Linked DNA regions of Homo sapiens: all the other regions are linked to region 3. Evidence: fine-mapped expression QTL. A gene starts in region 3. Each other region holds a variant in brackets. All regions are shown on one strand. Distances are from middle to middle. Region 1 overlaps CTCF (CCCTC-binding factor). Region 2 overlaps DPEP2NB (DPEP2 neighbor). Region 3 holds the start of NOL3 (nucleolar protein 3).

Region 1 (11,031 bases), 400 kb after region 3:
GCCAGGATGGTCTCAATCTCTTGACCTCGTGATCCGCCCGCTTTGGCCTCCCAAAGTGCTGGGATTACAGGTGTGAGCCATTGTGCCTGGCCTGGGATTTTCTTTCTTTCTTTCTTTCTTTTTCTTTAGAGGTAGGTTCCACTCTACCTTTGCTTGAAGCTTGACAGTTCATTTTGTAATTTAGGGTGAAAAGATGCCATCTAACAAAGTATTCCGTTATTCGACTAAAAAAACTGTTTCATTGCTATGCTTCTAGGATTTTCAAAGGTCAGTAAAAGCTCCTTTTGCCAGTTATCTTTTTTTTTTTTTAATGAGACGGAGTCTAGCTCTGTCGCCCAGGCTGGAGTGCAGTGGCGCGATCTCGGCTCATTCCAACCTCCGGCTCCTGGGTTCAGGCGATTCTCCTGCCTCAGCCTCCTGAATAGCTGGGATTACAGGCGTGTGCCACCACGCCTGGCTAATTTTTGTATTTTTAGTAGAGATGGGGTTTCGCCATGTTGGTCAGGCTGTTCTCAAACTCCTGACCTCAGGTGATCCACCTGCCTTGGCTTCCCCAGTTATCTTACTAAACTGGAAAGCATAGCCTTTACTTGTGGCATGAACAAACTTAATCAGTAAGACCACTACTTGCTAAAGATACGGAAATAAACTGTTAGAGAGCCATTACTGCAGCCATAAGAATTAATTTTTTTTTTTTTTTTTTGAGACGGAGTCTCGCTGTGTTGCCCAGGCTGGAATGCAGTGGCAGGATCTCGGCTCACTGCAAGCTCCGCCTCCCGGGTTCATGCCATTCTCCTGCCTCAGTCTCCTGAGTAGCTGGGACTACAGGCACCCGCCACCACACCCGGCTAATTTTTTTCTTTGTATTTTTAGTAGAGACGGGGTCTCACGTGTTAGCCAGGATGGTCTTGATCTGCTGACCTCGTGATCTGTCTGCCTCGGCCTCCCAAAGTGCTGGGATTACAGGCGTAAGCCACTGCGCCCAGCCAATAATTAATTTTTTGGTAGTTTGAATATGTGTGCCATTATTTGGTTGCAATATTGCAGTGGAGTGTTTTGTTTTGTTTTTTTTTTTGAGACGGAGTCTCGCTCTGTCGCCCAGGCTGGAGTGCCGTGGTGCGATCTCGGCTCACTGCATGCTCTGCCTCCCAGGTTTGCACCATTCTCAGCCTCCCAAGTAGCTGGTACTACAGGCGCCTGCCACCACACCCGGCTAATTTTTTGTATTTTTAGTACAGACGGGGTTTCACCATGTTAGCCAGGCTGGTCTCGATCTCCTGACCTCGTGATCTGCCCGCCTTGGCCTCCCAAAGTGCTGGGATTACAGGCATGAGCCACCGCGCCTGGCCTTTTTTTTTTTTTTTTTTTTTGAGACAAGATCTCTCACTCTGTCAAGCAGGCTGGAATGCAGTGGCACAATCTCAGCTCAGTACAGCCTCAAACTCCTGGGTGAGTCTCCCACCCTGGCTTCCGAAAGCGTTAAGATTACTGGTGTGAGCCTGGAGTACTATTTTGCTACTTAGAAACCTTTAGTCCTTTATATATTTAGCAAATGTGTGAAAAAATAAATGAATGTTTTGTTATTGGCTTGATGGTGGACATTTATGGAATGGCTCGGTTAGTGACATGACATGAACAGGTGTTTTGTTTCTTTCCCAATTTTTTCTGTCTTCAGTTTTCCCTCATTTTTTTTCATACTATATGCGTATTTGTATGAATTTAGTGTTTCATAAAATGATTTGTGCTTTTCTTTTAGAATGATTACGGACCTGAAGCCAAAGAACAAGATGCGCTAGTGGACAGATTGCTGACCAGGGGCTTGAGAGCTGGGTTCTATTTTCCCTCCTCAAACTGACTTTGCAGCCACGGAGAGGTAAGTGCTATTTCCATTTTTTCTATCTTAAAAATGGTAGTAATATAACCCTCCTGGAGTTGGAGGATTTGTTGGCTAATTCTTGAATATAGGGGATGCAGGATATCAGGTGATTGAGAGCATACAGGCTTCATAATCAGAGTCCTGGGTTTGAAACTCTTTACGATGATATACTAGCTGGGTAATATGGGGCAAGTTACTTTAACCTGTCTACTCCTGTAGTCCTCACTTGTGAGAGAATAACACCACCAATCTCAGAGACTATTCTCCGTTAATGAGAATGTGTTTTGTAAAGCTTTAAGTACTATTCTGAACATGTACATAGAAAGATCCCAGGAAATTGTGGCTGCTTTTCTGTAGAAACCCTTGGAATGTGTATTTTGACTATTGGCAAATGAACTGAAAAGAAAGTCCATGACCTGTGGCTACTTGTAATTTTGATAAGAAACAGATGGAATCCTGTTCTTGGGGAACCTGGTATCCTGGATAAAAATTGTCTTAATTTGAGTTAGCCTAGCTCATTGCCCATTTTGCGTCAGAGTGTGACAGTGATTATCATTTTAATTTAGCCTGTAATTTTTGCTATAAAATATAATGGACATTATATGGAACTTGGAACAGACCTTCTATAAATATTGGAATCTACTATGCTTTGGGATCTCATAAACAACAAAGTGGGATTCTGGTTGTAAAAATTATCTCTTCTCACGGTACCGGAAAGCACATTTTTTTCAGACCCTAGAAAAATGTGAAAATAATTTAATCGTACATGTGTAATGGCAAAAAGGAATGTAGAAGTGGAAATTACAAATGCCAGGATTAGATAAGCTTATGTGAATGAATCATCTAAATGACTACTAAGATTTTTCTTACAAGCTCTGCCTGGAGCAAATAAAGAGAAGGGAATAGGAATGAAAGTTCTGTTATTCTTCAAACCTTTATTTTCCAAATGGGCAACTTGTTATCCTGCTAGATGGGAAGGAGAAGGTCTGTGGTAGTATTCTGTCACTCCAAAAATAACTTACGCCCTGCAGGTTCTTTTAGGAGTGTTGACACAGAGTGCATACCAAAAGTTGCTGATTTAAAAACTATTGAGAAATCGAACCTTTAAGAGTTTAGGGAATGGGTTTATAGGAACACGTTAATCACTTTCAAGTGTTATGACTAGCTTAATTGCTTAGATCCCTGTTTCTCAAACTGGGATATGAATACCCTTAGGGAATCAGGTGGTATGATTTCGGGGTACTTGGAGTCACAAGAAAGATAAACATGACCCATCTTCCTAGAACTTCAGTTATAGTCATAGAGGAGGTGGTGAGTTAAGTAATTTAACTGGTCAGTGATTAAATATTAAATATTGGCCAGGCACGGTAGCTCACACCCAGTACATTGGAAGGCCAAGGCCTCCAAAATCCCAGTAATCCTAGTACTTTGGGAGGCCAAGGCAGGTAGATCACTTGAGGTCAGGAGTTCCAGACCAGCCTGGCCAACATGGTAAAACCCCATCTCTACTAAAAATATAAAAACTAGCCGAGTGTGGTGGTGGGTGCCTGTAATCCCAGCTACTTGGGAGGCTGAGGCAGGAAAATCGCTTAAACCTGGGAAGCAGAGGTTGCAGTGAGCCAGGATTGTGTCACTGCACTCCACCCTGGGCGACAGAGTGACTCTGTCTGCCCCCCCCCGCCCCCCCCCCCAAAACAACAAAAGACTGGGCGCGGTGGCTCACGCCTGTAATCCCAGAACTTTGGGAGGCTGAGGTGGGCGGATCACAAGGTCAGGAGTTCGGGACCAGCCTGGCCAACATGGTGAAACCCCGTCTCTACTAAAAATACAAAAAATTAGCTGGGTGTAGTGGCGGGAACCTGTAATGCCAGTTTCTCGGGAGGCTGAGGCAGAAGAATTGTTTGAACCTGGGAGGCGGAGGTTGCAATGAGTTGAAATCACTGCACTCCAGCCCAGGCAACAGAGTGAGACTCTGTCTCAAAAAAACAACAAAAAAAACCCCAAGAAGACAATTAGCTGGGTGTGGTGGTGCGTGCCTGTAATCCCAACTACTCGGGAGGCTGAGGCAGGAGAATCACCTGAACCAGGAGGCAGGCAGAGGTTGCAGTGAGCCAAGATCACACCACTGCACTCCAGACTGGGTGACAGAGCAAGACCGTCTCAAAAAATAAATAAATAAATAAATATTAAATATTGTTATATTAAAACAAATAGACATTTTTGGAGCAGAATGAAAACTGTATGATTAAGATAACATAGGTCTTCAACAAAATGAGCATGAGTGCCTGAGGGTGGGAAGTTCTCTCTGTATAGGTTCTATAGTGGATATGTTTGAGAAGCAATACATTTGAGCTATAGAACAGCTCTGCTATCCTGCTCCTTACTTTGTCCTTGTAGTATTTGTGTAGGGAAAAACTCTCAAGCCCAGGTTTTTCCTTTGCTTTCACATAACAACCACCATCAACACAAAAGAAGACTTACGTGGCTGGGCCCAGTGGCTCATGCCTGTAATCCTAGCACTTTGGGAGGCCAAGGTGGGCAGATTGCAAGTCCAAGAGATTGAGACCATCCTGACCAACATGGTGAAATCCCATCTCTACTAAAAATACAAAATTTAGCCGGGCGTTGTGGTGCGTGCCTGTAGTTCCAGTTACTGGGGAGGCTGAGGCAGGAGAATCGCTTGAACCCGGGAGGCGGAAGTTGCAGTGAGCCGAGATCATGCCACTGTACTCTGGCTTGGCGACAAGGCGAGACTCCATCTCAAAAAAAAAAAGACTTACGTGACCAAAGATGGGGTGGAGGGATTTTCCTCACACACCAAACAGTGTATGCCAACTAGGTGTCATCCAACACCATCTACCCAAGATGGTGTCAGATCCCACACGTTTAGGGTTCAGTCCCATAAGACCACCTGTCCTTCCTACCAGTCACAAGCCCATTCCTTCAGAGCTTCTGACCAACTGGCTTCAAGTTGAGTTTCCCACGACCTCTTTCTTGGGTTCCATTAGTTTGCTAAAGCAGTTCACAGACCTCAAGGAAACACTTCTTTAGATTTGCCAGTTTGTTAAGAGGACTACTTTATTTATTTATTTTTGAGACAATCTCACTGTGTCGCCCAGGCTGGAGTGCAGTGGCGTGATCTCGGCTCACTGCAACTTCCCCCTCCCAGGTTCAAGCAGTTCTCCTGCCTCAGTCTCCCGAGTAGCTGGGATTACAGGCGTTCACCCCCACGCCTGGCTAATTTTGGTATTTTTAGTAGAGATGGGGTTTTGCCATGTTGGCCAGGCTGGTCTCAAACTCCTGACCTCAGGTGATCCACCCAGTTCGGCCTCCCAAAGTGCTGGGATTACAGGCATGAACCACCACGCCCAGCCAAAAGCATCTTTTTTTTTTTTTTTTTTTTTTTTTTGAGATGGAGTCTTGCTCTGTTGCCCAGGCTGAAGTGCAGTGGTGCAATCTTGGCTCACTGCAAGCTCCGCATCCCAGGTTCACACCATTCTCCTGCCTCGGCCTCCCAAGTAGCTGAGACTACATGCGCCCACCACCACACCCAGCTAATTTTTGTATTTTTAGCAGAGACAGAGTTTCACCTTGTCAGCCAGGATGGTCTTGATCTCCTGACCTCTTGATCTGCCTGCCTCGGCCTCCCAAAGTGCTGGGATTACAGGCGTGAGCCACTGCGCCCAGCCAAAAGCATCTATTCTTAACTGTGTGTTTTACAATTACTAAGTATTGTTATTAACATATTGCTCTTAACATAAGTGGCATTTAAGAATTACATTTTTTCCATATGTCCTTGTGGATAGAGGAAAAAAAAAGAATTACATTTTCTTTAGTCACGCGTTGTGTTGCATGCCTGTAGTCCTAGCTATTCAGGAGGCTGAGGCCGGAGGATCGTCTGAGCTGAGAAGGTTGAGGTTGCAATGAGC[C/T]GTGGTCCCACCACTGCATTTCATTCAGCCTGGGTGACAGAGTAAGACCCTGTCTCAATAAACAAATAAGTAAGTAAGAATTAAGTTTTCTGAGGCTGGGCGTGGTGGCTCATGCTTATAATCCCAGCACTTTGGGAGGATGAATTTTATTTTAATCCCATTAGGACTCCAAGTCCTGGCCATGCAGCTTAATAGCTATATGGCCTTGGGCAGGGCAGTTCTATTAGAGGTGACTTCCTTGGGCTTCCCTTTCCTCTTTTTTTTTGAGAGATGGAGTCTCGCTCTGTCGCCAGGCTGGAGTGCAGTGGTGCAATCTCGGCTCACTGCAGCCTCTGCTTCCCGGGTTCAACCGATTCTCCTGCCTCAGCCTCCTGAATAGCTAGGACTACAGGTGCGCCACCATGTCTAGCTAATTTTTGTATTTTTAGTAGAGACGGGGTTTCACCATATTGGCTGGGCTGGTCTCAAACTCCTGACCTCAGGTGATCCGCCCACCTTGGCCTCCCAAAGTGCTGGGATTACAAGCGTGAGCCACCGCGCCCAGCCAAGTTGGTTATTGTATATATTTTGCATTAAACTGAACTTCGATGACCACCAGATAATACAAATGTTAATGAACTAAACGGAAATATTGTGCCATAGGAAAATGGGTTAGATTTATCAGAAAATCTGTTGAGCAGTAGAGAAGTGGGTAAGAAAACAAGGTCTCGTTGCATGTTGCAAGGGATATAAAACCCTAACCCATTTAAAAAGATGAATGTCAGCCTGGGCAACTTAGTGAGACCTTGTCTGTAAAAAAAAAAAAAAAAAAAAATGTAGCCAGGTGTGGTGGTGCACACCTGTAGTCTCAGCTACTTGGGAGGCTGAGATGGGAGGATCACCTGAGCCCAGGAGGTTAAGGCTGCATGCACTCTAGCCTGGGTGACAGAGTGAGACCCTGTCTTAAAAAAAAAAAAAAAAAAAAAACGGAAGGCTGTTAACCAGCAAAATGCTTATGAGAGAGGTTTTTTAATAGCATAATACCAAAAAGTTAATTATTATGGAATAAAAGTAAAGAAAATCCCAAACTAAAACCTGGCGTATAGCAGAAGCTCAATAAGTAATTATTTGGATGAATGAATGCCTAGGGAAAAAAGACTAAACAGACGTGGAAATCATCAGTCAAAACTAGTAGTGTGAGGGTAGTTTGGTTTGGGGGTCACTTTTTGTTGGTTTTGTATAGTTTGTGTAATTTTTTTTAATGCAAATACTTTTTTTCTTTTCTTAGATTAAAGCAGAATTACCAAAATCTGGCTATAAAAATATTTAACAATAGGTGACTGGTTAAATTATGATACATCCCTATAATAGAATGTTTTTTTTTTTTTTTTTTTTTGAGATGGTGTCTCCCTCTGTCACCTAGGCTGGAGTGCAGTGGCACGATCTCTGCTCACTGCAAACTCCGCCTCCCGGCTTCACACCATTCTCTTGCCTCAGCCTCCTGAGTAGCTAGAACCGCTAATTTTTTGTGTTTTTAGTAGAGATGGGGTTTCACCATGTTAGCCAGGATGGTCTGGATCTCCTGACCTCGTAATCCGCCTGCCTCTGCCTCCGAAAGTGCTGGGATTACAGGCGTGAGCCACCGTGCCTGGCCTTATAATAGAATGTTGTGTAGCCATTATGTATAAAAAATATGTTGAAATGGCAAGATATTTGAAACAAAGTACAAAGAAAGCAGATTATCAAACAATATGTATGGTATGATCTCGTGAGAGTAAGTATATGTATATATTGGGGAGGGGACTGCGAATTTGGATATAAGCCAGAATGTGTGTATAAAACCTATAGGTAGGTTTCTTTAAGCTTTCTCCTGTTGCCTGTATTGCATAATTTTTAAAGGAAAAGGGAATGCAGTACAGTAGGAAGTAGCACTGAAACTTTCTGATAAAGGTAATGAAATGGGCCGGGCGTGGTGGCTCACACCTGTAATCCCAGCACTTCGGGAGGCCGAGGTGGGCGGATCACGAGGTCAGGAGATCGACACCATCCTGGCTAACACAGTGAAACCCCGTTTCTACTAAAAATACAAAAATTAGCCAGGCATGGTGGCGGGCGCCTGTAGTCCCAGCTACTTGAGGAGGTTGAGGTGGGAGAATGGTGTGAACCTGGGAGGCTCTGTCTCAAAAAAAAAAAAAAAAAGGATAATGAAATGATAAAAGGTGTTTTTGCCTAGTTTACTTGGCAGTAATGTCTAGACTTCTTTTTTTTTTTTTATTTTTTGAGATGGAGTCTCGCTCTGTTGCCCAGGCTGGAGTGCAGTGGTGCGATATTGGCTCACTGCAAGCTCCGCCTCCCGGGTTCATGTCATTCCCCCGCCTCAGCCTCCTGAGTAGCTGGGACTACAGGCGCCTGCCACCACGCCTGCCTAATTTTTTTTTTTGTATTTTTTTTAGTAGAGACGGGATTTCACTGTGTTAGCCAGGATGGTCTCATCATCTCCTGACCTTGTGATCCGTCCACCTCGGCCTCCCAAAGTGCTGGGATTACAGGCGTGAGCCACCGCTCCCAGCCAGTCTAGACTTCTTGAGTGGAATCGAGAGGGCCACTGGAACAGTTATAGAAGTGCAGCCAGGAGGAGAGTAAGGCAGGAGGAAGCTCCTGCATCTGCCCAGCTGTTAGAGGGGATTGAGGTTGCAGAGGCAGTTCTTGCAGTGATCCTCACTTAAATTTGGTCTTAAACTTTGTTTAAATATTACCCAAGTAATGTTTAGTTTCATTCTTTGGAAGAGTCTAATGATTGTAGAATTACATTAGAACCTAAAGAATCCCTTAACTTTGTTTTCCCAGAGCTGAAGACTATTAATAGTCTGGTGTGTTGACTTTGCACTTTTATTAACAGGCATGTACATATAATACAACTTTTTAAACAAAATATAATTGTGCTATGGAAATTTTCTGTAACCACCACATTTAATGTAAGAACATGAGGGGGAAATACTTCAAACAGTGCAAAATGTTAATAATGAAAAGTAATCCTCAGTCTTGCCTCTGATCTCTCATTTTTCTTCCTCAGAGGCAATAAATACCAATTTCTGATGTATCCATCCAAAGAAAATTCTGCGTATATTCAAATGTATGAGTTTATGTATCTTTTTTTTTTTTTTTTTTTTTTTTTGAGACAGGGTTTTCACTCTGTTGCCCAGGCTGGAGTGAGACACGTGATCTTGGCTCACTGCAACCTCTACCTCCTGAGTTGAAGTGATTCTTGTGCCTCAGCCTCCCAAGTAGCTGAGATTACACACATGTGCGGCCATGCCCAGCGAATTTTTGTAGTTTTAGTAGAGATGGGATTTCACCGTGTTGGCCAGGCTGGTCTCGAACTCCTGGCCTCAAGTGTTCCACCCACCTCGGCCTCCCAAATTGCTGTGATTACAAGCATGAGCCAATGTGCCTGGCCAAGTTTATGTATCTTTTTAAAAAAGCACAAATAGGCCGGGCATGGTGTCTCACGCCTGTAATCTCAGCATTTTGGGAGGCCGAGGCAGGCGGATCACCTGAGGTCAGGAATTCGAGACCAGCCTGGCCAACATGGTGAAACCCCATCTCTACTAAAAATACAAAAATTAGCTGGGCGTGGTGGCAGGCGCCTGTAATCTCAGCTACTCAGGTGGCTGAGGCAGGAGAATCGCTTCAACCCGGGAAGTGGAGGTTGCAGTGAGCCGAGATTGCACCATTGCACTCCAGCCTGGGGGACAAGAGCAAGACTTCGTCTCAAAAATAAATAAATAAAAATAAAAGGCCGGGCGTGGTGGCTCACGCCTGTAATCCCAGCACTTTGGGAGGCCAAGGTGCGTGGATCACCTGAGGTCAGGAGTTCAAGACCAGCCTGACCAACATGGTGAAACCCCATCTCTACTAAAAATACAAAAATTAGCGGAGTGTGGTGGCACACGCCTGTAATCTCAGCTACTCGGGAGGCTGAGGCAGGAGAATCGCTTGAACCTGGGAGGTGGAGGTTGCAGTGAGCCGAGATCGCCATTGCACTCCAGCCTGGGCAACAAGAGTGAAACTCCGTCTCAAAATAAATAAATAAATAATAAAAATAAAAAATAAAGCACAAATAGTAGCTTACTATACACGTTGTTCTAGACGTTTGAGTTGTTTTCAATCTTTGTTTTTTTTTGTTTTTTTTTTATTTGAGACGGAGTCTTGCTGCTCTGTCACCTAGGCTGGAGTGCAGTGCCGTGATCTCGGCTCACTGCAATCCTTGCTTCTCAGGTTTAAGCGATTCTCTTGTCTCAGCCTCCCGAGTAGCTGGGATTATGGGCACATGCCACCATGCCCGGCTAATTTTTGTATTTTTAGTAGATACAGGGTTTCGTCATGTTGGCCAGGCTGGTCTCAAACTCCTGACCTCAGGTGATCCACCTGCCTCGGCCTCCCAATTGCCCTGGCCTCCCAACTGCCCAGGCTTCCTGAAGTGCTGGGATTACAGGTATGAGCCACCACGCCCAGCTTGTTTTTAATCTTTTGCCATTAGAGAAAAATACCCTAGTAGTAGATAGCCTTCTTATATACACATCTTTAGGCTCGTGTACTAGTGTAAACATAGAGAATTGCTTGTATATTCCTAGAAGAGGGAATGGCATGTACAAAGGCCCAGAGGCAGGAAAGGAAAGACCTAGAATGTTCTGGCTACTGAAAGAAGTTCAGTGTGATTAGAGGCGAGTATGTCAGGCTGGATGCAGATCTGCTGATAGGGCCCTGAAGCACTTGGTAGGCCATGTGAAAGAGTTTGGACTTTAAGAGTTTTCAGCATGGTGGTTTCAGAAGGGAAGTCTTCTTGCTGATAATGGATTTACATTTTAGAAATCCGTGGCCGCTGTGTGAAAAATGGTGGGTAATGGAGCAAGAGGGGAAGCAGGGAAACTGTTTAGAAGGCCATTGCATTGGTCCATGCAAGATGTAATGCTGTCCTGACTTAAGGTGGGATAACTGGGATTGCTGTTTGTCTAGTTTGTTAAATTATAATGATTATTTTAAATTAATTTAGAGACAGACTCTCGCTCTGTTGCCCAGGCTAGAGTGCTGTGGTGTGATCATAGCTCACTATAACCTTGAACTCCTGGCCTTAAGTGATCATCTGGCCTCAAGCTCCTGAGTAGCTAGGAGTGTAGGTGCGTATCACCAGGCCCAGCTAATTTTTTTTGTAAAGATGGGGTCTTACTGTGTTGCCCAGGCTGGCCT
Region 2 (11,031 bases), 840 kb after region 3:
AGAAACTTTTTTTTTTTTTTTGAGATGGAGTTTTCTTGTTGCTCAGGCTGGAGTATAGTGGTGCAATCTTGGCTTACTGCAACCTCCACCTCCTGGGTTCAAGTAATTCTGCTTCAGCCTCCTGAGTAGCTAGGATTATAGGCACCTGCCACCACGCCCATCTAATTTTTGTATTTTTAGTAGAGGTGGGGTTTTACCATGTCGTCCAGACTGGTCTCGAACTCCTGACCTCAGGCAATCTGCCTGCCTTGGCCTCCCAAAGTGCTGGGATTACAGGCGTGAGCCACTGCACCTGGCCTAAGAAACTTATTATACATGTGATGATCTTACAGCAGATGATAAATTTCTGCCTCATTCATTCAGGATCAAGTCCAAGTATCTCTGACCATACCTTATTTCCTTGTCTTTGAGGCCAAAGTGAAGATGAGGTAACATATACAAGCAAGGCCACAGCAGTGTGATCTCATAGGGAATGAAGCTCAGCTCATCCTTCTTGGTTTTTCCCAGGATTCCTCTGAATTCCAATTATGTTTCCCCAACGCAGTTTGTTATTAATATGAATAAATTATTCTTCCTGAAATTATAATTCCTGAAATTGGCCATGACTTGCAACTTGACCCCCTCTGCTCAAAGATCATAGAAGTTCATGGCTGGGCACTGTGTCTCACGCCTATAATCCCAGCACTTTGGGAGGCCAAGGCAGGCAGGCAGATCACCTGAGGTTGGGAGTTCGAGATCAGCCTGACCAACATGGAGAAACCTCACCTCTACTAAAAATACAAAATTAGCCGGGCGTGGTGGCGCACGCCTGTAATCCCAGCTACTAGGGAGGCTGAGGCAGGAGAATTGCTTAAACCTAGGGAGGAGGAGGTTGCAGTGAGCTGAGATTGTGCCATTGCATTCCAGCCTGGGCAACAATAGTGAAATTCCATCTCAAAAAAAAAAAAAAAAAGATCATAGAAGTTCAGCTTTCCTCCAAAAGCTTTTTTGGCATGGATCCTATCTGTCACGTTTAAGGTGATATCAGTCAGGAGATCCCCAGTTTGCAGGTGACAATATTCTGGGATGAAGTCAGTGAGGGAGATGTCTACATGGATCTCGTTGGGGTATGGGTCTTTCCCATTGACCTACCTGACTGCAAATCTTTTTTTTTTTTTTTTTTTTTGAGACAGAGTCTCGCTCTGTTGCCCAGGCTGGAGTGCAGTGGCTCAATCTCAGCTCACTGCAACCTCCACCTCCCAGATTCAAGCGATTCTCCTACCTCAGCCTCCCAAGTAGCTGGAATTACAGGCATGTGCCACCATGCCCAGCTAATTTTTGTATTTTTAGTAGAGATGGGGTTTCATCATGTTGGCCAGGCTGGCCTCGAACCCCTGACTTCAAGTGATCTGCCTGCCTCAGCCTCCCAAAGTGCTAGGATTACAGGAGTGAACCACCGGGCCTGGCCTTGGCTGTGGATCTTGTAGTACTGATTTGGGTCCAGGCTCTCCTCCTCAGGACCCACACCATTGTCAGTGGTATGGTTGGTGGCAGCAGCAGTGACCTGGGCTTAGCTGTTTCTCACTGAGCTCTTACTGCTTGGCTGCCTTCTCTGCCACTTTCTTCTCGGCTTTCAGGTATCTCTTCGGCTTGTTCTTGCTCAGTTTTGACTCACCACCATCCACTTTAACCTTGGCCCCTTGTACTGCAGTCATCTTCCCAGAGGGCCTGGACCCAAAATTGTGTTTTTTTTCTTTTTCTTTTTTTTTTGAGATGAAGTCTTGCTCTGTTGCTCAGGCTGGAGTGCAGTGGCGCAATCTCGGCTCGCTGCAACTTCTGCCTCCAGGGTTCAAGGGATTCTCATACCTCATCCTCCAGAGTAACCAGGAATACAGGCACCCACCACCACTCCCAGCTAAATATTCACATTTTTAGTAGCGATGGGGTTTTGTCATGTTGTCCAGGCTGGTCTCGAACTCCGGGCCTCAAGTGATCCTCCCACATCAGCCTCCCAAAGTACTGGAATATAGGCATGAGCCGCTGTGCCTGGCCCTGTTTTTTGTTTTTTTCACGTGGCCGTGTAGTTAAGGAACCAGCCTTATCGTGTGGGTAAGAAAATTGAGCAGCTGGTCAGATGAGGGGTTCCTTCAATCCCTCCACTTCCAGCTGCTGCCTCTAGGAAAGGCCTCAAATTCCTTACCTCAGCTTCCTGGGATTACAGGCGCACGCCACCATGCCTGGCTAATTTTTTTATTTTTAGTAGAGACAGGGGTTTCTCCATGTTGGCCAGGCTGGTCTCAAACTCATGACCTCAAGGGATCTGCCCACCTCAGTCTCCCAGAGTGCTAGGATTACAGGCGTGAGCCACTGTGCCCAGCCTCAAATTCCTTACATCTATCAGTTTGTCCGGGCATCATTTCCTGATCACCCACTGGTGCTGGCCATTTGCTGGGGTGTGCAGTGAGGTGGCTGGATAAGTCTCCAGCTATCACATGTGCTGGCATAAGCACATGGGGGTGGAGGGTGGGCTCTGTAGAGGCCCCCAAGATCCAGGAGCCAGTGCTGACCAAACATCTAGACAACATGTGTGATTTCACATTTAACCTCAAATTCAGACTTGCTGTCTCTTGCTTAACCTTGTCTGCTGATCTCCGAGGGCTATCAGACCTGTTTCTGCAAAAACACAGTGAAGTCACAGCACACCCTGCCCCGGAGCTCTCTAAGCTTCCTGTTTTTATGCAGAAAGCCTGCCCTCCTGTGAAGCTGACCATGTGAGATCTCACTGACTCCGCATCTGGGTGAATCTGAGAAGCTTAGTTAAAAACAACAACACAAAACTTTTTTTTTGAAACTGTATCTCCCTCTGTGGCCTAGGCTGGAGTGCAGTGGTGCCGTCATGGCTCACTGTAGCCTCAAATTCGGGGCTCAGGTGATCCTCTCACCTCAGCTTCCCGAGTAGCAGGGACTACAGGGTGGTGCCACCACACCCAGCTAATTTTTTTTTTTTTTTTGGTAGAGATGGGATTTCACCATGTTGCCAGGCTGGTCTCAAACCCCTGGTCTCAAGTGATCCTCCCACCTTAGCCTCCCACAGTGTTGGGATTACAGGCATGAGCCACTGTGCCCAGACCAAAAAACTTTTTATAGGAAAAATTGCAAATACATGAGAAAGGAGAGAGAAAAGTGTATTAACTCCCATGTAGCCATCACCCAGTTTCAAAGATTACCAACTGATGGCTCATCTTATTTCATTTATGCTCTCACTCACCTCTTTCTACAGATTATTTTAAAGCAAATCATAGACATCTATTTCATCCATTTTTAAGTATGCCTCTCTAAAAGGTAAGGGCTCTTTTTAGGCTGGGCACGTGGCTCTTGCCTGAAATCACAGCACTTTGGAAGCTTGAGGTGGGTGGATCACCTGAGGTCAGGAGTTGGAGACCAGCCTGGCTAACATAGCGAACCCCATCTCTGCTAAAAATACAAAAATTAGCTGGTTGTCGTGGAGGACACCTATAATCCCAGCTACTCAGGAGTCTGAGACAGGAGAACTGCTTGAACCCAGGAGGCAGAGATTGCAGTGAGCTGAGATCATGCCACTGTACTCCAGCCTGGGCAGCAGAGAAAGACTCAGTCTCTAAATAAATAAATAAATAAATGGTAATGGCTGTTTTTAAAAGACAACTATAAGCCAGGTGCACTGGGCCATTCCTGTAGTCCTACTAGCTATTTGGGAGGCTGAAACAGGAGGATTGCTTGAGCCCAGGAGTTTGAGGCCAGCCTGGGCAGCATACTAAAACCCTGTTTCTGAAAAATAAAATAAAATAAATAAATATATAAATAAATGGCAATTACCATACCATTATGACCCTTATAAAAGTTAACAGTACTTTTCTTTTAAAATTTGTAGAGACAGGGTCTTTTTTTTTTGAGACAGAGTCTCCCTCTGTTGCCCAGGCTGGAGCGCAGTGGGGTGATGTCGGCTCACTGCAAACTCCGCCTCCTGCGTTCACGCCATTCTCCTGCCTCGCCTTCCGAGTAGCTGGGACTACAGGCACCCGCCACCATGCCCAGCTAATTTTTTTGTATTTTCAGTAGAGACGGGGTTTCACCATGTTAGCCAGGATGGTCTCGATCTCCTAACCTCGTGATCCACCCGCCTCGGCCTCCCAAAGTGCTGGGATTACAGGCATGAGCCACCGCGCCTGGCCGAGACAGGGTCCTGTTTTATTCCCCAGGCTGGTGACGAACTCCTGGGCTCAAGCAGTCCTCCCTCTTTGGCCTCCCAAAGTGCTGTGATTACAGGCATGAGCCACCACACCCAGCCACTTTTTTTTTTTTTTTTGAGATGGAGTCTCGCTCTGTCGCCCAGGTTGGAGTGCAGTGGCGCCATCTCGGCTCACTGCAAGCTCCGCCTCTCGGGTTTATGCCATTCTCCTGCCTCAGCCTCCCGAGTAGCTGGGACTACAGGTGTCTGCCACCACGCCTGGCTAATTTTTTGTATTTTTAGTAGAGATGGGGTTTCACCATGTTAGCCAGGATGGTCTCAATCTCCTGACCTTGTGATCCACCCGCCTCGGCCTCCCCAAAGTGCTGGGATTACAGGTGTGAGCCACCACGCCCGGCCTTTTTTTTTTTTTTTTTTTGAGACGGAGTTTTGTTTTTGTTGCCCAGGCTGGAGTGCAATGGCGTGGTCTTGGCTCTCTGCAACTTCTACCTCCCAGGTTCAAGGGATTCTTCTGCCTCAGCCTCCCAAGTAGCTG[G/C]GATTACAGGCACGCATTAACACACCTGGCTAATTTTTTTGTATTTTTAGTAGTGACGGGGTTTCATTATGTTGGTCAAGCTGGTCTTGAATTCCTGACTTCATGTCATCCGCCCACCTCTGCCTCCCAAAGTGCTGGGATTACAGGCATGAGCCACCGTGCCCAGCCCAATTCTTTAGTATCATAAATTATCTATCATGTTCAAATTTATCTGATTGTCCAATTTTTAAATAATTCATTGGTTTGAACTGTAATGGAGCTCAGACCGCCCACATTGTAAATGGTTGTTATGACTCAATCTTCAGGTTCTTCTTTTTTTTGTCTTCCTTGCAATTTCTTTGTTGAAAAAATCACGTCCTTGTCCGTTAGAGTTTTCCATGTTGTAGAGTTTTCTGATTGCATCTCATGGTGTCATTTAACATGTTCCTGTGTCCTTGTGTTTTCTATAAACTGGTAGTTAAGGCAAGCTTTTATTTATTTAAAATTTTTTTTTCTAATTCTTTACTGTTAATATTTTTTGTAGAGATGGAGTGCTGCTGTGTTGCCCAGGCTGGTCTCGAACTCTTGGGCTCAAGCAATCCTCCCACCTCAGCCTCCCAAAGTGCTGGGATTACAGCCATGAGCCACCATGGCCAGCTGAGGGGAAGCTTTTAATACTGTGGATTTCTAGGCCAGTACCCTAAAACTTTAGACTGGTGTGGGTGCTGGGGATCACTTTTTTTTTTTTAAGACCGAGTCTCGCTCTGTCACCCAGGCTGGAGTGCAATGGCGCGATCTCAGCTCACTGCAAGCTCCGCCTCCCGGGTTCATGCCATTTTCCTGCCTCAGCTTCCCGCGTAGCTGGGACTACAGGCACCCACCACCACACCTGGCTAATTTTTTTTTTTTTTTTGTATTTTTTAGTAGAGACGGAGTTTCACCGTGTTAGCCAGGATGGTCTCGATCTCCTGACCTCGTGATCTCCCCGCCTTGGCCTCCCAAAGTGCTGGGATTACAGGTGTGAGCCACTGCGCCTGGCCGGGATCACTCTTTTTTAAGAGCCCCAGTTGAGTCTATTTGTTTCAGCTTTGGGAACTGCCAAACTATCCAGGCCATCCAGGAACCACAAATCTGCTTCAGTCACGCCACGGATGAGAGACTCTGGGGGTTAATGGAGACTCTCACAGGGAACTTTCTGGGAGCCCAGGGCCTGTGCCTCCTTCCTTTAACCCAAGTTAGGAAAACCTATCAGGACCTTTCCTGGCCTCCATGGTATGCGTGTTGGGGGGAGGAGCAACAGTCTTGCTGCTGGGACCCCTAAGGACAAGTGAGTTGCTGACAGTGCCGCCTTTTTCTGGGCTGCTGATACAGGCAGACTTGGGACAAACGTCATGGTGTTTCTTCTCTGCTGACTGCTCCTCCATCCCCCAGTCCCCAGCACCAGCTGTCCCAGCTGCAGAGAGAGACAGTCCCCCTGGTAACAGCCAGCACCTCACTACCATGGCACGCAGCAGTCAGACGGATCTTTTTAGCATCTATATCAGATTACTTCCCTACCTTATTCAGATTCCTCCATGACTTCCCAATATACTTAAAACAAGATCCACTGTCCTTACCGTGGCTGGCACGGCCCACTATGGTCTGGCCCATGCTTACTTGCTTACTTCCTTACTTCTCCAACCACCTTTTTCTTTTCTTTCTTTTTTTTTTTGAGACAAGTCTCACTCTTGTCCCTCAGGCTTGAGTGCAATGGCTCGATCTCGGCTCACTGCAGCCTTCGCCTCCCGGGTTCAAATGATTCTCCTGCCTCTGCCTCCCAAGTAGCTGGGATTAAGGCGCCTGCCACCACACCCAGCTAATTTTTGTATTTTTTAGTAGAGACAGGGTTTCACCATGTTGGCCAGGCTAGTCTCGAACTCCTGACCTCAGGTGATCCACTAGCCTCAGCCTCCCAAATTGCTGGAATTACAGGAGTGAGCCACTGCACCTGGCCTCCAACCATCTTATTTTTTTTTCCTTCCTTCCTTCCTTCCTTCCTTCCTTCCTTCCTTCCTTCCTTCCTTCCTTCCTTCCTTCCATCTTTCCTTCCTTCCTTCCTTCCTTTCTTTCTTTCTGACAGAGTCTCACTCGTTGCCTAGGCTGGAGTGCAGTGGCAGGATCATGGCTCGTTGCAGCCTATACCTCCTAGGCTCAAGCAATCCTCCTGCCTCAGCCTCCTGAGTAGCTAGGGACCACAGGCATTCACCACCACACCCAGCTGATTTTTTGATTTTTTGTAGAAAGGGCACCTCCCTATGTTGCCAGGCTGGTCTCAAACTCCTGGGCTCAAGTGACCCTCCCTCCTTGGCCTCCCAGCCACCACATCTTTCAATCTCCTCTATCTTTCTTCCCTGGCCACACTGGCCTTTCTGCTGGCCCTCAAATTGGTCAGTCTTGTAGGCCGGGTGTGTTGGCTCACACCTGTAATCCTAGCACCCTGGGAGGCCAACGCTGGCGGATTACCTGAGGTCTGCAGTTTAAGACCAGCCTGGCAAACATAGTGAAACCCCATCTCTACTAAAAACACAAAAATTAGCCGAGTGTAGTGGCATGTGCCTCTAGTCCCAGCTACTCAGGAGGCTGAGGCAGGAGAATCACTTGAACCTGAGAGGCAGAGGTTGCAACGAGCCAAGGTCGCACCATTGTACGCCATCCTGGGAGACAAAGTGAGACCCCACCTCAAAAAAAGAAAAAATGGATCAGTCTCATTCTTACCATTATACTTGAAATTTCCTCCAGTAATGCTCTCCCTTCTACTCCTCACGATTCCCTCACATCTCAGCCACAATGTCATCATCTCAGAGAAGCCTTCCCTAACCACCTGGTGTAACACAGCACACCTCATTACTGTATTCTCTTATCCAGTTTCATTTTTCTTTATACCAGTTATAGTTATCTAAAATTATATTGTTTGGGGAGGCTGAGGCAGGACAATGGCGTGAACCCAGGAGGCAGAGCTTGCAGTGAGCCTAGATCGCGCCACTCCAGACTGGGTGACAGAGCGAGACTCCGTCTCAAGAAAAACAACTACAACAACAACAACAAAAATTATATTGTTTGTCTCTATGAACAAATTATATTGTTTGTGGGTGCCTTGAGGGGAGGAGTTTCTCATTCACCAATATATCCCAAGCAACCAGCACAGTGGCTGGTATGTAAGAAGTGCTCAATAGGCCGGGTGCGGTGGCTTATGTCTGTAATCCCAGCACTTTGGTGGGTGGATCGCCTGAGGTTACGAGTTCGAGACCAGCCTGACCGATATGGTGAATCCCATCTCTACTAAAAATACAAAAATTAGCCGGGTGTGGGGGTGTGCCCCTGTAGTCCCGGCTACTCAGGAGGCTGAGGCAGGAGAATCGCTTGAACTCGGAAGGCGGAGGCTGCAGTGAGCCGAGATCGTGCCACTGCACTCTAGCCTGGGCAACAGGAGAGAAAACTCTGTGTCAAACAAAAAAAAAAAGTGCCCAATAAATACTTGTTGAATAAATGAATGAATGGATGAGTGGATAGATGGAGCAGCATCTTCTTAGTTATTTTGTCCCTCTCCTAACACTCTCTAAAACACACACACACACACGGAAACACTCACTGGGCTCTACATTTTTTTAGCTTTTCTTTTTTTCTTTCTTTTTTGAGACAGGGTCTCGTTGTGTCACCCAGTCACCCAGACTGCTGAAATGCAGTGGTATGATCATAGCTTACTGCAGCCTTCAACTCCTGGCTTTAAGCGATCCTCACGCCTCAGCCCCCCAGATGGCTAGGACTATAGGTGCACCCCACCATACCTAACTAATTATTTTTATTTTTGTAGAGACAGGATCTCACTACTTGCCCAAGCTCGTCTTGAACTCCTGGCTTCAAGCAATTCTCCCATCTTGGCCTCCCAAAGTATTGGGATTACAGATGTGAGCCACTGTGGCCGGCCAGGCTCTGCGTTTCTTTTTTAAATTTTTATTTATTTGGGAGGCTGAGGCAGATGGGTCACTTGAGCCCAGGAGTTCAAGACCAGCCTGGACAACACGGCAAGACCCCATCTTTTTTTTTTTTTTTTTTGAGATGGAGTGTCGCTCTGTCGCCTAGGCTGGAGTGCAGTGGCGTGATCTTGGCTTACTGCAAGCTCCGCCTCCCGGGTTCATGCCATTCTCCTGCCTCAGCCTCTCAAGTAGCTGAGACTACAGGTGCCTGCCACCACAACTGACTAATTTTTTGTATTTTTAGGAGAGACGGGGTTTCACTGTGTTAGTCAGGATGGTCTTGATCTCCTGACCTTGTGATCCGCCCGCCTCTGCCTCCCAAAGTGTTGGGATTACAGGTGTGAGCCACAGCGCCTGGCCTTTTTTTTTTTATTTTTTTTTAGACAGAGTTTCACTCTTGTTGCCCAGATTGGAGTGCAGTGGCATGATCTCGGCTCACTGCAACCTTTGCCTCCCAGGTTCAAGTGATTCTCCTGCCTGAGGTTCCTGAGTAGCTGGGATTACAAGTGCCCACCACCATGACCAGTTAAGTTTTTGTATTTTTTTTTTTGTTTTGATACGGATGTCGCCCAGGCTTTAGTGCAGTGGCACTATCTCGGCTCACCACAAGCTCTGCCTCCCGGGTTCATGCCATTCTCCTGCCTCAGCCTCCCGAGTAGCTGGGACTACAGGCACCCGCCACCACGCCTGGCTAATTTTTTGTATTTTTTAGTAGAGATGGGGTTTCACCATGTTAGGATGGTCGCAATCTCCTGACCTCGTGATCCGCCCACCTCGGCCTCCCAAAGTGCTGGGATTACAGGCGTGAGCCACCACGCCTGGCCAATTTTTTGTATTTTTAGTAAGATGGGGTTTCATTGTGCTGGCCAGGCTGGTCTCAAACTTCTGACCTTAGGTGATCCACTGCCTCAGCGTCCCAAAGTGCAGGGATTACAGGACTGAGCCACTGTGCCTGGCCGAGACCCCATCTAAGAGAGAGAGAGAAAAGAGGAAGAAGAAGGAGGAGAAGGAGAAGGAGAAGAAGAAGAAAGAAGGAAGAAGGAAGAAGAATAAGAAGAGGAGGAAGAAAGAGGCTGGGTATGGTGGCTCATGCCTATAATCCCAGAACTTTGGGAGGCCAACGCGGGCAGATCTTGAGGTCAGGAGATCAAGACCATCCTGGCCAACATGGTGAAACCCCGTCTCTGCTAAAAATACAAAAATTGGCTGGGTGTGGTGGCGGGCGCCTGTAGTCCCAGCTACCAGGGAGGCTGAGGCAGGAGAATGGCGTGAACCCAGGAGGTGGAGCTTGCAGGGAGCCGAGATAGTGCCACTGCACGCCAGCCTGGGTGACAGAGTGAGACTCCGTCAAAAAAGAAAAAAAAAAAAGATGATCAAGTCAAATACTGTTATGGAAAAATAATTTTTTTAATTTTTTTTTAAATTGAGCAGTAGGGACCTCACTGGGGCCATAATGGGCAGGAAATAAAGTAACATGTGAGCTTCAGGGGGATGTTGCTCAACTTCCTCCTTATTGTTCTTGCTGTAGGTGGCAGGTCTCCCCAGGTCTCTTTCTTCTACCTCCTGAGATGCCAAGCAGGAGGCTTTCTCCTGCTGTGACTAGCCATGGGCTGCTGCTTCCAGTTTCAGCAAGTCCTGGCCCTCCTGGTTTGTGCTGGTAGTTGCTGGCAGTGACTCAAAGCAAAGACCCATCTGGTAGATCAAGCCCTTACTGGGCTATGCTGCACTCCCTCTCTGCACTTGACTCCTCGGCTAGCAGAGTGCAGACTATTTCTATCTTCTGCCCAAAAAGGGACTCTGGAGAGATGAGTAGAGGAACATCAGGTTTTCTTCCAGGCCGTCTTCAGCCTTGGGATGTTCAAAGCAACCTCTCATTTTAAACCACAGTTTCTGAGGCTCCTTGGCCATGGGTAGTTAGCATGGAAGGGGGCTTCTGGATGAGGAAGGCATAGGCAGAATGACTCAGGCTCTATCTGCAGTGGTGGGCAGGGGAGGTCACCGCAGAAGAGGCATTAGCTGTCTTAGACAGCTAAACATTTGTCCTTTCTCCCAAATGGCTCAGCCAGCAAGCTTCTGTGGGGTCAGTCTCCTGCCACGATGCTCCAAGCGCCGAATTTTGGGGCTAGAGCAACCCAGGTCTTTATCTGACTCTATCGTAGCTTGACGTCTCTTGGGAGCACGCCTGGGGGCTGGCTTCTCTGCTTCAGCCTTTGTTGGGGTGGCCAAAGGAGCATCCCCATGGACCCGGTAGCCACCAACCAGGCAGTACGTCTCCCCATGCCAGCCTACCTGAGTTT
Region 3 (8,209 bases):
TCCTTCACCGGGAATCCTCATTCCTCCCCCTGCGCTACAGGCTTCCTCACCCCATCTAGGATCCACTTCCCCCCAACTCTGCCACCTGGTATCCCCACTCCCAGATCCTCCCATTCCAGGACCTTATTCCCAAATTCCTACCCCAGCAGCCCCTTCCCCCTCCGGCAAGGCTTCCCAACAGCTGAGACCCTGGGGCTCAAACCAGGTTCCCTCCCTCCCCTCTCTACCCACAAAGGGCCCCCATCTCTAGGGGGAGCCCCTTCCACCTCCAGCATGTGACTGACACCCTAGCAACAGGCCTCAGCTCTGCTGACTTGGCTGCTGGGGCCTGAGGGAGGGAGGGAAGTGCAGGCCGAGGTGCATGGGGGCTGACCCTGCCCCACCCCTGCCTGTGCCCTGATCGACCACACAGGTCCCTGATGCTGGATGAGGGGAGCTCATGCCCAACACCTGCCAAGTTCAACACCTGCCCTCTACCTGGTGCCCTTCTGCAGGACCCCTACTTCATCCAGTCGGTAGGTTTGTCTTCTTCCCCCTTCCCAAGGGCATGGCTGGGCTTATGGAGAGCCTGTTCCTTCTCCCCATCCCCTAAAAGGAAGAGAAGATGGAAGCCAGCCTTCCCCCCAACCAGACCCAGGCCCTCCAGCATGGACTGAGCCTCCTCCCTCAAACCTTCTCCCTTAGACCTGGCCCAGGTGGGTGTTGGTGGGGTTCTGGCTCTCCCTGTGCCTACAGGCCAAGGGCTGGGCCTAGCCTTCTACTTACAGCCTCTCCCAGAGACAAATTTGGGCCTTAGCCCTCACAGGGCCAGGGGCCCCATCATCTCTGACATCCCAGAAGACTCTCCATCCCCTGAGGGGACCAGGCTTTCTCCCTCCAGTGATGGCAGGAGGTAAGGGGGACAGGGCTGCCCCTGAGGGGCCTGTGGGGGAGGGCCTGGCAGCCCAGATGGCTGTAGGGGTAGAGGGAGAAGTCAGTGCCAGGGTCTGGTTGAAGCTTTTCTCTGGTGCAGGGAGAAGGGCCTGGCACTGCTCAAAGAAGAGCCGGCCAGTCCAGGGGGGGATGGCGAGGCCGGGCTGGCCCTGGCCCCAAACGAGTGTGACTTCTGCGTGACAGCCCCCCCGCCACTGCCTGTGGCTGTGGTGCAGGCCATCCTGGAAGGGAAAGGGAGCTTCAGCCCCGAGGGGCCCAGGAATGCCCAACAGCCTGAACCAGGGGATCCCAGGGAGATACCTGACAGGTGAGCAGAGCCCCAGCTGGCCCATGAGCCCTGTGATAGAACAGCCCTTACCAGCCCACAAAGCTTCCTAGCCATTTGACTCCATGATACTCACCTGATTTCTTGGCCCCAGCATCAGAGTTCTGTGGAAAGCAGAGCCTCCCAGTCAGGGCACTCAGCATCTGCGGAAGGGCTTAGGAACCTACATATGAAATGAGTTCCCTGGGGTGACTGCAAAGTACACAATAGTTTAAGAAGCATTGGTGGCTATGAGGTGGCTCATGCATGTAATCCCAGCACTTTGGGAGGCTGAGGCGGGCAGATCACTTGAGGTCAGGAGTTCAACACCAGCCTGGCCAACATGGTGAAACCCCCCGCCTCTGCTAAAAATACAAAAATTAGCTGGGTGTGGTGGCGTTTGCCTGTAGTCCCAGCTACTCAGGAGGCTGAGGCAGGACAGTCGCTTGAACTTGGGAGGTGGAGGCTGCAGTTAGCCAAGACAGTGCCATAGTGACATAGTGGGTGACATAGTGAAACTGTCTCCAAAAAAAAGAAAAGAAAGAAAGAAGGAAAGAGAGAGAGAGAGAGAAAGAAAAAAGAAAGGAAGAAAGAAAGAAATAAAGAAAGAAGAGAAAGAAGCATGGATATTGATACTTGCATAGGGAGGGGAAGGGTCCCAAAGCCCCAGCTCCACCACCCAAACTTCAGGTCCCAGGTAGGAAGCAGAGGCACTTTCTCTGTGCCATTTATGGCAGGAGTGGGGAGGTTGGGGGTGGAGAGAGGATGGGGATCCTCTCCTATCATTTTCTAAAGATTGGGGGATTAAAATCTTGATGCATCTGGGTTCCTTGGGAACTTAATGCGGGGTGGACACTGCAGGCCAAAAGCAGTTCTGTCTGCACAGGGGGCCTCTGGGCCTGGAAAGCGGGGACAGGAGCCCAGAGAGTCTGCTGCCTCCGATGCTGCTTCAGCCCCCTCAAGAAAGTGTGGAACCTGCAGGGCCTCTAGATGTGAGTACCCCTTCTGCTGAAACAGGGGCATGAGACCTGGTGGGGTCTAGCTCTCTGTGGAGCCTGGGGAGGGCACCACTGACCCAGAGCTCTCCTCAGGTGCTGGGCCCCAGTCTCCAAGGGCGAGAATGGACCCTGATGGACTTGGACATGGAGCTGTCCTTGGTAAGAAGTGGGTCGGGGAGGGCAGAGGCCAGGGGTGGCTGAGTCAAGCCCTCTGGTCCATAGCTGTTCTCTGTGAGCCAAAGCCGTGTCTCTAGAAGAATTGTCACAGTGATTTCCCAGCTGTCCCCCTCAGCTGCTAGGTCCCCTCCCCAGCTGCTCCCTGCGGTTCTCACGCAGATGCAGCCCTTGGTTCCAGAGCGGGGTGAGCCTGAGCTGGCGGTCAAGGGGTTAAATTCTCCAAGCCCAGGTAATGGTTGTGATGACTCCTACCTGGGAGGACGCCGTGATTGGGCTGAGCTACCTTGATTGAGTGAGGGGGCAATCTGCAATTTGCAGGGAAATCCTGAGTTCAGGCTGCACTGCAGAGCGTTCCTTGAGCCACCCATGCCCTCACCATTGGGCGAGAGTGGGGAGGTTAAGAATGGATGTTTTATCCTAACTGAGCAGAAGGCAGGCGGGCAGGGCTCTCCTTCCCTGAAGAAAGGAGGGGGAACATTTCCCCTGGTGAGCGCAGTCCCACTTCTCCTAGGGAAGGACCCCACGCTCGGGGCCCCACTCCTGCTGGATGTCCAGGCGGCCTTGGGAGGCCCAGCCCTGGGCCTGCCTGGGGCTTTAACCATTTATAGCACTCCTGAGAGCCGGACTGCCTCCTACTTGGGCCCGGAAGCCAGTCCCTCCCCCTAAGACCCCGCGCCTCTGAAGGGGCTTGGAACCAGTCCGCCGCTGCACATCCTTCTTGGCTTCCTGGCGCCCCCTATCGGGGGTGAGCGAAGCCCCCACTACTAAATGGCCTCTCTCCACTACCCCGACTATCCCTGCACATAAACTCCGTTTTTTTTTTTTCTGTTTCTGGTCTCTTTTCTCTATCGACCAGGGAGCACAGGAGTTATGGGTGGGGGGTGATTTTGCATTTGTAGAAGCGTCCAGATACTAGGTTTTTAATAGAGGAACCCCAGGAGGGTGGAGGTGCTTGGGGATCCGGTGCCTAGCTCCCTTGCTTAGGCCCGGGTCCAGGGCTGGCGCGGGGCCGCTGCAATCTCTGGGAAGCGGGGGCTTCTGGGTCGCGCTCAGCTCTGCAATGCATGCGTTCTGTGATCCTGGTGAGTTGGTATCCTTCTCTGAACTTCCTCTGTGACAGGCAGAGAAGAGGGGTCGATGACAAGATAGATGGAAAGCACCTGGAAATTGGCAGGCCCTGAGTGGGCGCTGGACGTGTGGGGCCGCGGGCCGAACTGCCCCCTCCTGGCCTCATCTCCTGGTGCGCCCCGGGTGGGGAGGGAAAGCTGACTACATGCACGTCCCCAGCCAGCGCGCGGCCTCCGCGGTGTGGCTCCTAGTGCCCGGGGAAGAACCCTCACCCTCCCTATTCCCAGCAGCCCTGGCCGCCCCGCCCCCGCCGCAGCTGCTGCACCCACCCCCACCCTGCCCGGCCCTTTCTGCACCGTCATCTCCTGCCCCGCCGAGGCTTGACCCGTGAGTGGGGACGCCCAAAACGGGCCAGACCGGGAGCCCCACTCCCGGCTGTGGGAGGGAAGGGAAACCGAGATTGGGCAGAATCAGCGCCCCACCACCCGCTGCGGCGCTCGGGGGTCGGGGGGGCGGGGTGGGTAGGACTGTGGGCCCCGCCCTGCCGCAGGACTCTCAAGCTCTGGGACTGGGTGGAGGGAGGTAAGGGGCGGGGGGGGAAAATCCGTGCAGTCGCACATGCGCAAAGGCTCTTCACTGTCCCAAGACCCTGGCTTCCTGGCCAAAGAGCCCGCGCAGCGAGGTGGGGTTGGGGGCTGGGACCCAGCTCCGTGCCCCGCCACCTGGCTCTCTGGGAAGAATCGGACCTGTCACCCTCGAAGGACTGGCCGCTAAATAACTTCGGTATTGAGAGCTGTGTGAGCCTCAAAGGGAGGGCCCAGACCAGCTGGAGTCTCTACCCCCAGACAGGATAAAGGGCAGGACTTGGGGTCATAGGAGGAGGCGGCTAACATGAAAACAACTTAGGTTGGAGAGAAGGAGGGGCCAATCCAATCTGCACCCTCCCTGTGTCTGTCCCGAGTAGGTGCTGTCCCCCTCTCCCTTCCTTTGCCCACCGATTGGAGGGACACTCTGGAAAACTCAGTTGAAGAAAGCGGAGAGTCTGCGTGTACACAGTGCAATGATGTCAGTTAATGCACTAGTGAGGGCATGTGTTGTTCACGGTACACAGAAGAAGGAACCACCAGCCCTTGGGACACTTAGGCATTGGTGTAGACAAGGGAACATTTGAGTCCTGGACGATGGATAGGTCCACGGAGCGGAGGGAGGAGAAAAGGATTCCAGTCTTAGCGATCAGCATCAGCAAAGGCTCCGAGGTGCCAGAGGCATAGTGAGTTCTCCGATCCCTGGCTGGTGGAGGGAAGCTGGGAAGGGCCTGGCTGTCCAGGGTGGTGGGAGGAGGCTAGAGTAGCCAGACCAGATATTTTGGGTTGTCTCTGATGGGCAGTGGGGTGTGGGGGGGAGGTAGATAGGTATTTAGGATGGAATTCTGCTAGACAGGAAAATATAGTTCAGTTCCTCATAGTTCAGGCTGGAGCAAGTAAGATTCCAGTTTTACCACTGAATCTCTGAGCCTGTCTCCTCATCTGTAAAATGGGAACAGCAATCCTAGCCCAGAGGGTTGTCAAAGTCACTGTGCTATCGGGCCTGGCAGAATGGGAGTGAGAGGGGCTCAGAGGGACTGTTACAGGACATGAGGTGACGATGGTGGGGTGGCAAGGCAGGAGCTGATGGAGACTCACTGAGAAGTGGAGAAGCAAGATTCATCACATACGGGACATAAAGGGAGATGGAGGGGCAGGGGGTAGTCCTGGTCTCGGCCTGGTGGGGAAGGGCTTCAATGGGAGGAAGCCAGGGTGTGAAGTGACGGGGGAGGTATAGTGTGACACCAGAGGGTACTGAGAAAGACCTGGGAGGCAGGATGGCGGCTAGGACTAAATCCTCTCTCCCAGAGAAGGCCGAGCCTCCTAGAGCCAGAGAAGGAGGCAGAGGAGGGACAGCAAAGGGAAGAAGAGATGGGAGGATGCCGTGTGAACAAAGCCAAGGCGGGGAGGAGAAGAAGTTATTATCAGGGTGGGGGTGGGCTGAGGGCATGGTTCAAGGCCTGATGTCTTTGCCTCCTAATGCCGGGGGTCTTGCTGGCTGGGTCAGGCCACTCACAGGAATGGGCCATAATCCTTGGTTGACAATAAATGGACAAAGCAGCTGGGTGCGGTGGCTCATGCCTGTAATCCCAACACTTTGGGAGGCCAAGGTGGGTGGATCACGAGGTCAGGAGTTCGAGACCAGCCTAGCCAACATAGTGAAACCCCGTCTCAACTAAAAACACAAAAAATTAGCTGAGCGTGGTGCGGGCACCTGTAATCTCAGCTACTCGGGAGGCTGAGGCAGAAGAATCGCTTGAACTCAGGAGGCAGAGGTTGCAGTGATGAGAGAATGTGCCACTGCACTCCAGCCTGGGCAACAGAGTGAGACTCTGTCAAAAAAAAAAAAAAAAAATGGATAAAGCAGATTGACTCTCCCTAATAGCCGCTGTTGGTAGAGATAGTCTCTCAAGAGCCAGGCATGGTGGTTCACATGGTGGTTCACAAAGTGCTGGTAATCCCAGCACTTTGGAAGGCTGAGATGGGAGGATTGCTTGAGGCCAGCAGTTCGAGACCAGCCTGATCAATATAGCAAGACCAGGACAGGCGCGGTGGCTCACGCCTGTAATCCCAGCACTTTGGGAGGCCAAGGCAGGTGGATCACGAGGTCAGGAGTTCAAGACCAGCCTGGCCAACATAGTGAAACCCCGTCTCCACTAAAATAAATAAATACAAAAAATATATATAGCAAGACCCCACCTCTAAAAAAAAAAAAAAAAAAAAAGGCTGGGCACGAGAATCACTTGAGCCTGGGAGGCGGAGGTTGCAGTGAGCCAAGATTGCGCCACTGCACTCCAGCTTGGGCAACAGCGAGACTCCATCTCAAAAAAAAAAAAAAAAAAGTCTCTCAAAATAGTGCGATCCATGGAGGAAAATCAGTCCAAGTTCGGCAAGTATTTGTCGGTATCCTGTATGAGCTAGGCCTTGGGTACTTCAAGATCAAACAACAAATGTCTGTAGGTAATTCCCAGGTCAGCAGGGAGCCAGGTGGGTCAGCAGAGAGACAGTCACATTAGGAGTTAGGGCTTCAGTAGGGAGACAGGTGGGTCTCAGGTGATGTCAAGAGATCTTGGTCAGAGCTAGGCCTGAAGAAGATTCTGGTATCTCTGCTCAGGAATCAGGGGACCAGGAAGGGCCAGGAGACTACATTGGGGTTGCACTATGGTGGTGGTGTTGGTGGGAGGGTGTAGAGGCGGGGCTTGTCCTGGAAAGTTGGATATCAGGGTCAAGGTAAGGGGAGAGGGGCAGGGAGGCTCTCAGCACTTTGTGCTCTGGGTTCAGAGGGGACTGGAGGATAGAGTATGGAAGCAGGGAGCTCTGATCCTGGGTTCTGCAGGGCCAAAGCAGGAGGCAGAAGGCTGGACTTAGTAAGTGGTGAGGATGGTGAGAGAAATATTCAGCAGTCAGACTGGAAAGGACTTGTCTGCAAGCTGGGTGTGGAGTATCAGCATCAATCCTAGGTTTTTCTGCCTGGTTAGGTGGGGAAGCAGATTTGAGAGAAAGACCTTAGTTTGGATAAACGGGGTCTGAACTCGCCTCGGATTTGCCGGGGGTGGAGCTCAGGACGTCCTGGTTGGGGAGGGCATTCAGAGAGTAGATGCCAGTCCTGGGAAAGGCAGGGGAGGAGAGGAGAGCCACGGCTGACGCTTGGGGACAGAAGGAGGAGCCTGAGGAGGAGACAGGACAGAGCGTCTGGAGAGGCAGGAGGACACCGAGTTCCCCGTGTTGGCCTCCAGGTCCTGTGCTTGCGGAGCCGTCCGGCGGCTGGGATCGAGGTGAACTTAAACCCCAGCCTGGGTGTTCACTGGGGGCATTGAGGGAGTGGTCAGAGGCGGCGAGGGCAGCGGGGAGGGCAACCCCCCATTACTTCTCTCCCCTTTCCCCATGCAGCCCCGACAATGGGCAACGCGCAGGAGCGGCCGTCAGAGACTATCGACCGCGAGCGGAAACGCCTGGTCGAGACGCTGCAGGCGGACTCGGGACTGCTGTTGGACGCGCTGCTGGCGCGGGGCGTGCTCACCGGGCCAGAGTACGAGGCATTGGATGCACTGCCTGATGCCGAGCGCAGGGTGCGCCGCCTACTGCTGCTGGTGCAGGGCAAGGGCGAGGCCGCCTGCCAGGAGCTGCTACGCTGTGCCCAGCGTACCGCGGGCGCGCCGGACCCCGCTTGGGACTGGCAGCACGTGGGTCCGGGTGAGCGCGCGGGGCGGGGCCTAGGGCAGAGCAGGGACGGGGCTGGGGCAGACAAAAGGCCCGGGGAGGGCAGGGTTGTCGTCTCCGCTAGAAGTAGGCGAGTGTGAAACCGCACAGGGGTAAATTGAGCCTCAGTCACTCCCACTTCCGCCCCAGGCTACCGGGACCGCAGCTATGACCCTCCATGCCCAGGCCACTGGACGCCGGAGGCACCCGGCTCGGGGACCACATGCCCCGGGTTGCCCAGAGCTTCAGACCCTGACGAGGCCGGGGGCCCTGAGGGCTCCGAGGCGGTGCAATCCGGGACCCCGGAGGAGCCAGAGCCAGAGCTGGAAGCTGAGGCCTCTAAAGAGGCTGAACCGGAGCCGGAGCCAGAGCCAGAGCTGGAACCCGAGGCTGAAGCAGAACCAGAGCCGGAACTGGAGCCAGAACCGGACCCAGAGCCCGAGCCC

Evidence for each region.
Region 1: its variant is fine-mapped to the expression of NOL3 in whole blood (TOPMed, PIP 0.99).
Region 2: its variant is fine-mapped to the expression of NOL3 in whole blood (TOPMed, PIP above 0.99).

Annotation. Positions count from the first base shown.
Region 1 is chr16:67,569,392-67,580,422 of GRCh38, forward strand. It overlaps CTCF (CCCTC-binding factor), which reads left to right. Exons shown (of 12, transcript NM_006565.4): 2 at 1,757-1,873. Among named protein-coding and RNA genes, the nearest start is that of CTCF, 12 kb to the left of the region's middle. The variant C/T (reference allele first, on the strand shown) is at 5,806.
Region 2 is chr16:68,003,316-68,014,346 of GRCh38, forward strand. DPEP2NB (DPEP2 neighbor) reads right to left here. Exons shown (of 2, transcript NM_001282442.2): 2 at 10,121-11,031. The coding sequence ends at 10,793. It also overlaps the pseudogene KARS1P3. Among named protein-coding and RNA genes, the nearest start is that of DPEP2NB, 7.1 kb to the right of the region's middle. RefSeq lists an enhancer at 3,271-4,044. The variant G/C (reference allele first, on the strand shown) is at 4,743.
Region 3 is chr16:67,166,708-67,174,916 of GRCh38, forward strand. NOL3 (nucleolar protein 3) reads left to right here and starts at 3,831. Exons shown (of 4, transcript NM_001276309.3): 1 at 3,831-3,867; 2 at 7,455-7,757; 3 at 7,914-8,209. The coding sequence starts at 7,463. It overlaps HSF4 (heat shock transcription factor 4), which reads left to right. Exons shown (of 13, transcript NM_001374675.1): 7 at 413-515; 8 at 768-892; 9 at 1,013-1,240; 10 at 2,124-2,229; 11 at 2,329-2,394; 12 at 2,572-2,641; 13 at 2,924-3,234. The coding sequence ends at 3,078. RefSeq lists enhancers at 2,888-2,937, 3,428-3,577, 6,798-7,720 and silencers at 3,788-4,077, 5,718-5,881, 7,618-7,877.